2 separate regions of the Homo sapiens genome follow, and region 1 is linked to region 2. The links come from fine-mapping of genetic effects on gene expression. A gene starts in region 2. The other region holds a variant in brackets. All regions are shown on one strand. Distances are from middle to middle. Region 1 overlaps STPG1 (sperm tail PG-rich repeat containing 1). Region 2 holds the start of GRHL3 (grainyhead like transcription factor 3).

Region 1 (5,382 bases), 81 kb before region 2:
AATAAACACATACACACAGTAGATTTTTGATGAGTGTGCCAAGATAATTCAGTGAAAAAAGGGTATTCTTTTTAGCAGATGGTGCTGGATTAATTGAATCTCCAAATGCAATAAAATGAAAATAAAATGAACCTGACCCTTACCTTAATACTGTATACACAGTTTAATTCAAAATGGATCCTAGGCCTAAATGTAAGAGCTAAAACTATAAAACTTCTAAAAGAAAATGTAGGAGAAAATATTTGTGACCTTGAGTTAGGCAAAAATTGCTTAGATCTGACAAAAGAAATCTTAAAACCTTAAAAGAAAATTTTGACAAATTTGATCAAAATTTAAAAATTTGCATTCATAAGATAGTGTTAAGAAAATAAAAAGGCAAACCTCAGCCGGGGAGCAAATATTTTCAAAACATATATGATAAAAGGCTTGTATCCAGATGTATTAACTTGTACAACTCAATAAATAACCCAATTAAATCCAATTGTTTTTGGGTTTTGTGGTTTTTTGTTTTTTTGTTTTTTTTTGTTTTTTTTTTTTGAGATAGGCTGTTGCTCTGTTGTCCATTCTGGAGTGCAGTGGTGCTGTCATGGCTCAGTGCAGCCTTGATCTCCTGGGCTTAAGCAGTTCTCCCACCTCAGCCTCCAGAGTAGCTGGGACTACAGGCTGGCTAATTTTTTATTTTTCGTAGAGATGGGGTCTCACTATGTTGCTTAGGCTAGTCTCAAACTCCTCGCTTCAAGCAATCCTCCCGCTTCAGCCTCCCAAGGTGTTGGGATTATAGGTGTGAGCCACAATGGCTGTCCCCAATTTTTTTGTTTTAAAGGTAGAAGATTTGAACACACTTCACTAAAGAAGATAAATAAGCACATGAAAATATCCAAATTAAAATGACAATGAGATACCACTATAAAATCACTAGAATGCCTAAAATTAACAAGATTGAGCAAACACATGTTGGTGAGGATGTAGAACAACTGGAACAAAGTACTGATCTATGCAACAATATGGAAGAATTTCAAAAGCATTACACTAAGTGAAAAAAGAGTGTCTATGATTGCATTTCTGTGACATTCTAGAAAGGCAACAATTGTGACAGCAGAGCAGTGGTTGGGAGGGTGCTGACTGCAAAGGGACACAGGGAGCTTCTCAGCATCATAGATAAATTAATATCTTAATTGTGGTGGTATTTAACTTGGCTGTAAACATTTGCCAAAACTTGGAATTGTACAACTAACACTGATGAATTTTATTTGTGTATACATTATGTCTCAGTAAAGCTAAATTTAAATAAAAATAGGCCAGGCATGGTGGCTCACACCTGTAATCCTAGCACTTTGGATGGCAGAGGCAGGCAGATTACCTGAGGTCAGGAGTTCGAGACCAGCCTGGCCAACATAGTGAAACCCCATCTCTGCTAAAAATACAAATTACAGATGGTGGGCGCCTGTAATCCCAGCTACTGAGGAGGCTAAGGCAGGAGAATCACTTGAACCCAGGCAGGGGCAGCGGTTGCAGTGAGCCAAGATCACACCATTACACTCCGGCCTGGGTGACAAGAGCAAAACTCCGTATCAAAAAATAAAAAATAAAAATAAAATCCAAGCCTTCAGTAGTTCTGTAAGCAACATCAACAGTGACTTCTTACGCAGTTCCTACTGCAGGCAGCACCAGCACAATGTGCTTGGGACTTTGGGTCACTGCACTTGGTAGATCTCAGCCGGCACCCACACCATTTCTCAGTTTACCCTGTAGATAGAACAGAACCCATTTGCAATAATTAACCAATGTGAAATGATCTCTACAAATGCTGTGTTTTGCTGTTTCAGGTGCTTAGGAGAACATGCAGTAGAACTTTTCATCAAACAAATGGAACACGTCACAGAATTTTGCTAACATGGACAACTCTGCACAGAAAAATGAACGCACTGGCAAACATCCCAGACGTGCCAGTGAAGTACAGAAAGGTACATGTGTCTTTGCAGGGAGGAGATAGCTCCTGACATATGCTTATTTTAGTACATAAGAGCAAATTTGGGGGGAATAGTAAGTCCTGGGTTATATCCACAGGGCCATCCTTACAGGCATACCAAATAG[G/A]TGGCTTTAGGCCCTACTGTTTCAAGTGTGACGATTGGGAAGAAACTGAGAAGAAAGGATGAGAGAAGAAGGAGGAAGTCTGTTAAAAAATAAAAAACTAATAAACAAAACCCAGACTTGTTAGTTCCATGTATCTGGTAAGAATCTCTATCCTCAAATTTAGATATGTAAGAGATCTTTTTTTATTTCCTAGAACTCAACTTGAGTTATGACTGCAAGTCCCCATTCTGCTGGGTTGTTGGAAAGGATAACTCCAGCCATTATCAGCATAAATCCTATCTCCCTCGTGATTGTTTCAAGTTCAGAACTTTCCCAATAGTTAGTGTGATCCCAGGAGGCTGGGTTGGGGTGGGGAGGAATACTCAGGTCATTGGTCAACCATCCACATTGGTGAGATCCCCAGTGTCCCAGCTCATGTGCTCCCTTTGGTTTTGCTAGTGTTCGCCAACTAGTGTTCTGGTTCGTTAGTGTGGCTTAGGAATTATTGCTGAGACAGGAAACCTCATTTTGAGATCCCCCTAGGCTCCAGCGCTTTTTCTTTCGAGGCTGTTACCACCTCCCTGGTGGGCTTCCAGAGTCGCTGCTGCTCTCAAATCCAGAGAGATCTCTCTTTCTTCCTCCTATCCTCTGATTTTGCACTCTCTTTTTCTTTAACATTTCTTTAAATTGAAGCATAAATATATATTCAGAAAAAGTGCACAAATCCTAATTGTATAGCTTAATGAATATTCACAAAGAAAACACCACCTATGGAATAACTTCTCAGACCAAGACAGAATGTCAGCAGCATCTCAAAAGCCCTTGTCCCTTCTCAGATATTATCTCCCTTCCCTGCAAAAGTAAACACTACGGTTATCCTGACTTCTCATATCATTAATAACTTTAGTTTGTTTTTGAATGTTATGTAAATGTGAATCATACAATATGAGCTCTTTTCTCTCAGGCTTATGTTTCAGAGATTTAACTTCATGTTGGTTTGTCTTATCTATGAGTAATTTGTTCATTTTATTACTCTTGTTTGAATACACCACAATTTATTTATCTATTCTACTACTGAAGGACATTTAGGTTGTTTCCAGTTTGGGGCTATTATGAATAAAAACTTCTGTAACTATTCTTGTACTTGTCTTGTGGGACACATATTTATGTATTTCATGGGTCTATACCTGAGGAGTGGAACTGCTGGGTCATAGGGTATGTTTAGGGTAAGCTTAGTTGATATTGCCAAACAGTTTTCCAAAGTAGCTGTGCCAATTTTACCTCCTTACAAGCAATGTATGTGAATTCCAGCTGCTCCAAATCCTCACCAACATTTTAAGCTCATAATAGTTTTAATTTGCATTGCCTGAGATCAATGAGATTGAGCACTTTTTCATGTTGACTGGCCTTTTGGATATTCTCTTTGGAGAAGTGACTGTTCAACTTTTTTGCCCATTTTCTTCTGCTGGGTCTTGTCTTGTCTTTTCTTTTTTTTATTTATAGGAGTTCTTTAAACCATTCTGTCCTTTTCTTATTTATAGGGATTCTTTATTCTAGAAACAAGTCATTTGTTAGCTGTAGGTAAATGTCATCCCTTATCCTGGGACTTTCCTTTTCACTCTCTTAACAATGTGCTAAGACACAGAAACTCTTGATTTTAATATAGCCCAATTTATCAGTCTCTTTATGTTTAGTGTACATGTCTATTTTATTAATACTTAAGAAATCTTTGCCCATCCCAAGATAGTTTCTTCTAGAAACTCTATTATTTTACCTTTTACATCTAGATCTACAATTCACTTGAAATTGTTTTTGATTGAGGAAGATGCCCGAGTCTGTTGTTTTCCATGTTGACCCAGCACCATTTATTGAAAGGCTGCTCATTCTCTACTACTCTGTATTGCTGTTGCTACCTTTGTCATAAATCAAGTGTCCAGGCATATGCAGCTCTGCTTCTTGATTATTTATTCTGTTCAAATATCATACTGTCCTAATTACTGTAACTTTATAATAACTCTTTAGTAGCATAAGCCCTTCAACTTTGTACTTCTTTGTTTATGCTGGCTATTCTTGACCCCAGTGCATTTCCATATAAATTTATTTTACTTTTTTATTTTTAATTTTTATGGATACATAATAGTTGTACATATTTATGGTGCACACATGATATTTTGATACAAGAATATAATGTGCGATGATCAAATCTGGGTAGCTATACAAATTTTACAATCAGCTTATTAATGTCTTAAAAAAACTCTACTCTCATTTTAATTTGGATTGCATTGATTCTAGAAATCAATTTAAGGATAATTTACATCTTTACAATAAATATTAACTTCTCTAATCCATGTATAGATCCTTTTATTTAAGTTACCTTAAATTGTTCTCAATGTTTTGGAGTTTTCTATGTAGAAGTCTTGCATATCTTCATTATATCTATTGTAGGCATTTGATTTTTATGCTGTTATAAATGGTAATTTTAAATTTTATTTTAAATTGTTTGTTGCTGCTGTACAAAAAAATTAATTGATTTTTGTATATTGACCTTGATTCTGGTGACCTCACTAAATCCAACTATTACCTCTTATAGGGTGTCCACAGATTATTTTGCAATTTCCCCATACACAATCTTGTAATCTGTGAAAATGACAACTTTATTTCTTCCTTTCTCATCCATATATTTTATGTATTTTTAATATATTTTATGTAGGCGTTTGTATTGGCTAGAGACCTTCAGTACAACGTTGAATAGAAGGATAATAGCAGTTGTACTAGTTTCACTCCCTGTCTCAAGGGAAAGCCTTTAATATTTCACAATTTGGTATCCTGTTTGCTATAGGCTTTTGTTATAGACACCTTTTATCAGATTAACAAAGTTTGCTCCTATTCCTAGTTTGCTAGAGTTTTTCTTTTAATCATCAAAGGATATTAGATCTTATGAAAAGCTTTTTCTGTATCTACTAAACAGTTACTTCACCAAAAAAAAGATATACAGAGGGAAAATAGCATATGAAGGACTGCTTAGCATCATTAGTCATTAGGGAAATGCAAATTAAAACCATAATGAGATACCATTACATACCTAATGGGATGCCTGAGATTAAAAAGACTTCCCATTGCTGATAAGAATGTGAAGTCATAGAAATTTTCATACGCTAATAGTGGGGATGTGCAAAAGTACAACGACTATGAAAAATAGTTTGACAGTTTTTTAAAAAGTTAAACATATGATCTAGTCATTCCACTCCTAGGCATTTACCCCGCAAAATGAAAGCTTATGTCCATTTAAAGACTTGTAGATAAAATGCT
Region 2 (5,382 bases):
CCCGGGGGCCCCGACGCACCTTCAGGAAAACCCGACGCTGGGCAGCTCGCGGGCGCCGGCTGTTTTCCTGCGAGACCCAGGCGGTCGGCGGCGACTTCCGGCGCCCTCGGCCGCAGCCCAGGATCCCTTGCGCCCTGCGGTAGCCCGGGGCTGCCCAGGGCTGCGGGCTCCAGGCACCCAGAGCGCTGCGACCACATGAAAGGCCCGGCGCTCAGCACCCGCCAGCCACCTCCAGCTGGTTTCTAACTACACCGCCGGGGCCTCCATGCTTCTCAGAGACCAGCCTTCGAAGTGCCGCCTTACACCCGGGGCCTGGCCACCGGGCGGGCGCGGATGGAGCTCTGGTCCACATTTGGGAGCTCACAGTTGTTCCTGCCAGGTAGGTGTTACAGACAGATGAGCAGACTGAGGGTCAGGGAGGACAAACAAATTCACCAGGATCCTGCTGTTGGTAAGTGGCAGAATTTAGAGTGACAGGCAAGTCCCACTTTTGCCACTATATCAAGGCCTGGCCAGAGTTGGCCATTCCATGAGGGCCCAAGCTGTAAGCTATGGCCAGTCCTCTTAACTTGGCACTTTTTAGGAGAATGTCGAGGCCGCAGAAGCAACAGCAGCTCAGAACTTGCAAGCCAAGCGCCGGGTGCCCTCCCCTTACCAGTAGGGGCAGCTGAGCCCCCAGGCTCTGCCACTGTAATCTCAAATGGTGGCTTGGAGTCCGCCTGCAATTACTCAGCAGGCAACTGGCTTCCCTCACCCCACCCCAAACTGAGAAGCCTCAACTGTCAGCGGATCTGACTTCAAATCCAAACCATTAGGGAGGAGAAAAGCAAGAAACCTTTCTGTTCAAGTAACCCAGCTTCAGAACACATACCCCCTAACGTGCAGTAATGAATAGATTCTGTCTGTAGCCTCCGCAGTTTTAGCCAGCAAATTTAAGTGGGATGGAGACACATGTCAAGATTTTTTTGCGCGTTCAAAGTATGGAAAAATAGCAAGAGGTTTGGGAATGCTCATTGATTGGTTAGTTCTACATGAAATGACAATGGTGTTACTGGTGTGTTCTCCACCAGCCTTAAAAGCAATCACTATTCTAAAATTGTCAAATCCTCTAACAACCCCATGAGGTGGATACTACTGTTGGCCACTATTTACAGATGAGGATTAAGGGACTTGCTCAACATCACACAGCTATAAGTGCTAGAGCTGGGACTTGAACCCAGGTGTCAGTACCAATGCTCCTGCTCTTATTCTCATTGCGGTCCAATTGTCAATACATTGTCAACCCCGGGAAATTCATTCAAAAGAAATGTGCCTGTTAACCCAAGTGATTGTGCTGTGAACATGAAGAGCTGAAGGGCTAGCTAGAACATAGAATCCGGTCTGCAGTCAGGACCTAGCACTGCTGTCTGCCCACAGATCTTCAAGTTCTTAAAAGTCTGTTGAGGAGCAGTTAGAAAAAAGATGGTACAATCCTTGCCTCTGCCCACTCACCTCTGAGGGTGGCAGGAAAAGGAGAGCCTGTGTTTAAAGGATTCTGGCTTCTCCTGCCAGCTCCCTGAACCCAATCTAAAGCAGCCCAGATCCCAGCCTCACCCTACCTTCTCTAAGGTCTGGACCCCAAGAAGGACATCATGGTGAAGATCAGCATCAGTCAGTCAGGATCTTAAATCTCAGATGTGGGCAGGAAGGCACATGCATCCTCCCAGCCAAAAGAGGTGACCTACCAAAAATCACTTCTCATCTTCCCCAGCCTTAGAACTGCCTCTGAATGAGAGGAACCACATTTTACTGAACGCATCTTCAGACCATAGCTTTATGCTAAGCATTTTACAGCATTTATCACACTTAACTCTTTCCAGAATTCTACAAAGCATTCTTGTACCCATTTTCCAGATGAGGAAAATGAAGCCCAGAAAAATTGAATGTCTTGTCTGAGATCACCCAGGGACAGAGCCTGGATTTGAACTTAGGTCAAGCCCACTACAAAGAGTACACATGCTTAACCACCACACTGTAACCTTCCCACTTGGGACTGTTCCAACCCAGCAAACAAGTCCCTTTAGAGAAACCCAACTCTCTGCCTAAGACAGCTCTTAGAACTACCTTAAAGAAGTTCCTTTTGGCAAGAAGATAGAAAGCCTCGATGGGATTGGGGTCGTCTGATTTCCAAGGCCCCTTCAGAGGATCAAAAAGTGGTGCCAGAAACCTTCACAGTTTCAGTCTTGTGTTTCCCTGCCTGGCTCGAAACTGCTCAGCAAAGAGAATGAGAAAAACTATTTTCCCAGGGAAACACTCACCTCTAGCTTGAGACTGGGGCTTGCCTTGACACGCCAAAGTAAGATCGTCAGCCCATTCATTTACCCTTACAAATTGCTCTGTGAATCCCGGTGCCGGCCTCCCCGCTCTTCCCCCTCCAGGAAACCCCATCCAGCCTCCACGCTCTGAGAGCGGCAGGTATCCACCGATGTTTACTCACTCAAGTTCATTCGACATCTTCCTGCTCCCAAGCTCCGACGATCAGCACTGAGGCTCTGCTGACCGCTTGTCTCTAATTCTTGCCTGACACAGACATTCTCTGCCCGGGAAAGTGTTTGATTTATGTTGAGGTTTGGGTGTCGAGATTTTGCTGACAGGTAGGTTCCCAGCAGCGCTGGCGCTGATTGGCTACAGGTACAGGTGCCGGCGACTGGAGGTATACCTCAACAGGTGCAGCTGTTAACTCTTAGCCCGCCGAGGAGGGCGGAGCTATGGGGGACTGGCTGGGTGGAGCTGGCCAATTCCTTCCTTGGTGAGGGGGTGGGGGGTGGAGATGAGGGAGGAGGGATGGAGAAGAAAATGTTGGAAAGAAGCAAGATAACTAGAGGAAAAGTACAGGGACAAACAGATAACTTGGCTTAAAGGAAAACTTGATTCCTGTTTCTAGTCATTGTCCCAGATACCCAGAAACATCCCCACCCCCAAATTTCTTTGCCCCCTCCTTCTGTACCACTGGGGAATTCTCAAAGGAGAGAGCAACTTTTCCCAGGTAGATCTTTGTATAAGTTCCCTTTTTTTCAGTTTCCCCTTTAAGGTAATATTTTTGAATAATCTTTTGCAGTTACTCAAGTGACTTCTTTTGGTTCTTAAAGTAACCTACCGTGGTAGATTTATTATCGCTTCCCCCTTCCTCTTCAACACATATTTTACAGATGAGGGAGGAAATGGAGGCCAGAGAGGCAAAGTGCCTTGCCCAAGGGCACAGCTAGCGAGGTCCCAGCCCAGATCCAATCTGCAGTCATCTCACTCCAAGTCTGGCTGCCCCTTGGGCTGAAGTCAGTGGCCTCAATTCAGTAGACATTCATTGAGCACCCGTTGTGTGCCAGACCCTACTCTGGGTTCTGGAGAAACTGAGGCCAGAAAAAACAGGGGTTACTGTTCTAAAGGAGTTTACAATCTGGGGGGTGTGTGTTGGTGGCAGGGGGTGGGGGAGTAAAGGAGAACAGGCTTTTATTGGGTGTGAAGGGGGTGTGGGCAAGCCACATACCTCTGGTCAGCACAGAAGGGATAGAAAAGTTGAAGGCTCCTCTGAAGCCTCAGCCAGCTGGTCATTTCACAGGCTCCAAGTGCTTCGTTCTGTATTGGGAACTTGGGAGAAATTCAATGCCTGTCAGATGAAGTAATTGTGGAGTAATTGCTGTGAGCTGTCTACTATAAAGAACAAGCTTGGTAAACCCCAGAATATCCACAAACACAAACAGGAGAATGTAAGAGCTTTTTAAAGAGCTTCTTCCAGGATTAGTTTGAAATTAAATCTAAGCCAGAGATCTTGGCATCTTTTTTTCCCTCTCTCTCTTTCTATTCTCCCCTCCCCCACCCTTCCCCTTTTGGCAAATTATCTCTTTGCTGTGTCTTCCTGGAAACCTCAACTTGGCCCACTCCTCTCTCTCTTCTCTGGGAACGGCAAGTGAGGTTTCAGCTACCCCTGCCAATTTATGGAGGTTTTTCAGGGTAAAGTCAGAATTCAAAGGAGCCCTCTTGGGGTGGGGTCAGGGCTCTGGAGAGGGGGTACTGGGTTTGAGAACTCTCAGAGATTGGTTTCTCCCTGGAGGCTGTGTTGGGGGAAGCCCAGGGGACCCTAATAAATAATAGTAAATAATTGCTAATAAAGCCACCTCCTCAGAGCAGCCCTCTTCAGTCACCCTTGTTAATAAAGTAGACATTCAATCACTCTGGATCACACTACTTTTTGTTCTCTGCAGAGCCCTTATGACTTATGATACAATGTAATATGACCTATGATATTTTTCTAATCGTTTATTGTCTTTCTCCCCTTCCTCTGGAATGTAAATTCCATAAGAGCAAAGACTTTGTGTCGCTCACTGTGGAATCTCCAGTGTCTGGCACCTAGTAGGTGCTTCATATACCACAGGCACCGGGCATTGTGCGCCTTTGCATACATTGTGTCGCCTAATCCTTACAGCAACCCTGGGAGATAGACATTTTTGATACCCCCATTTTATAGATGAGGAAACTGAGGTACAGAATACTGAAGTAAACTACTCAAGCTGCAGAGCTAGGCAGTGGTAGAGCTAGAGCTGGGATTTAATCCGAGAGCAGAGCCTGGGTGCCCAACCACTTCACAGAGCTTATTGGTGGCTGAAGGGCTATTTGGTGCCAACTGTAACTGCAAAGCTTATTGCAGTCCAAAGGATGGCACACTCCTCTGTATGTACCTGTCTGCCCACCTCATGGAAGGCTGTGGAGTTTCTGTCAACCGTGTTGCAACCCACAGGTGAAGGGCTGTGGGGTGACTCATGCTGACTGGGCTCAGGGGAGGCTGGGATTCCAGGTGGCGTGTCTGTGCTCGCTGGGGTTTTAAAAATGGGTCCTCTCCCTCTGCCTCTAGGTTTTGCCTCTTTCATCACCCGCACCCATCTTCAGAGATCAGCAGAGACCCAAATCACAGGGCAGAGGGTTTCTACGTCTCCACACACAGGAAGGCTACAGAAGTGTCCCGGATGGGATAGAAGGACCGGTGGTCTGGGCTAGGTAGGCAGGAACGCCATGAGCCAGTTTGCAAGGTCACCAGGCCCCTCAGTAGGAATTATACCTCCCAGGCAGGAGGTACAAGTGCTTTCTAGGCCTTCATCCCAACAACCCAGAGATGCCAGGCCTTTAAAGAGACACTCCCCGTGCTTTGCTGCTGCCCCCTTCCTGCTCCTGTGGGGCTGAGCAAGGCTGGCACCTACTTCCCCTTCATGGATCAGCACAGCTCTTGGTTCCTCTGCAGAGGAGATTTAAAACAGAACAGCTATTCCAAAAAAAAAAAAAAAAAACAAAGTTTAAAAAAACATAAACAGAGACCAGCCAATTACTTGTAACATAATAATTATATCCACAATA

The links. PIP is the estimated chance that this variant, and not a neighbour inherited with it, causes the effect.
Region 1: its variant is the best candidate, but not a certain one, in a credible set for the expression of GRHL3 in nasal epithelium (TOPMed, PIP 0.64).

The regions. Positions count from the first base shown.
Region 1 is chr1:24,397,901-24,403,282 of GRCh38, reverse strand. STPG1 (sperm tail PG-rich repeat containing 1) reads left to right here. Exons shown (of 9, transcript NM_001199013.2): 2 at 1,827-1,964. The coding sequence starts at 1,895. Among named protein-coding and RNA genes, the nearest start is that of STPG1, 13 kb to the left of the region's middle. The variant G/A (reference allele first, on the strand shown) is at 2,095.
Region 2 is chr1:24,316,663-24,322,044 of GRCh38, reverse strand. It overlaps GRHL3 (grainyhead like transcription factor 3), which reads right to left and starts at 2,688. Exons shown (of 16, transcript NM_198173.3): 1 at 2,477-2,688. The coding sequence starts at 2,493. It overlaps GRHL3-AS1 (GRHL3 antisense RNA 1), which reads left to right and starts at 54. Exons shown (of 2, transcript NR_183722.1): 1 at 54-379. RefSeq lists a silencer at 16-155.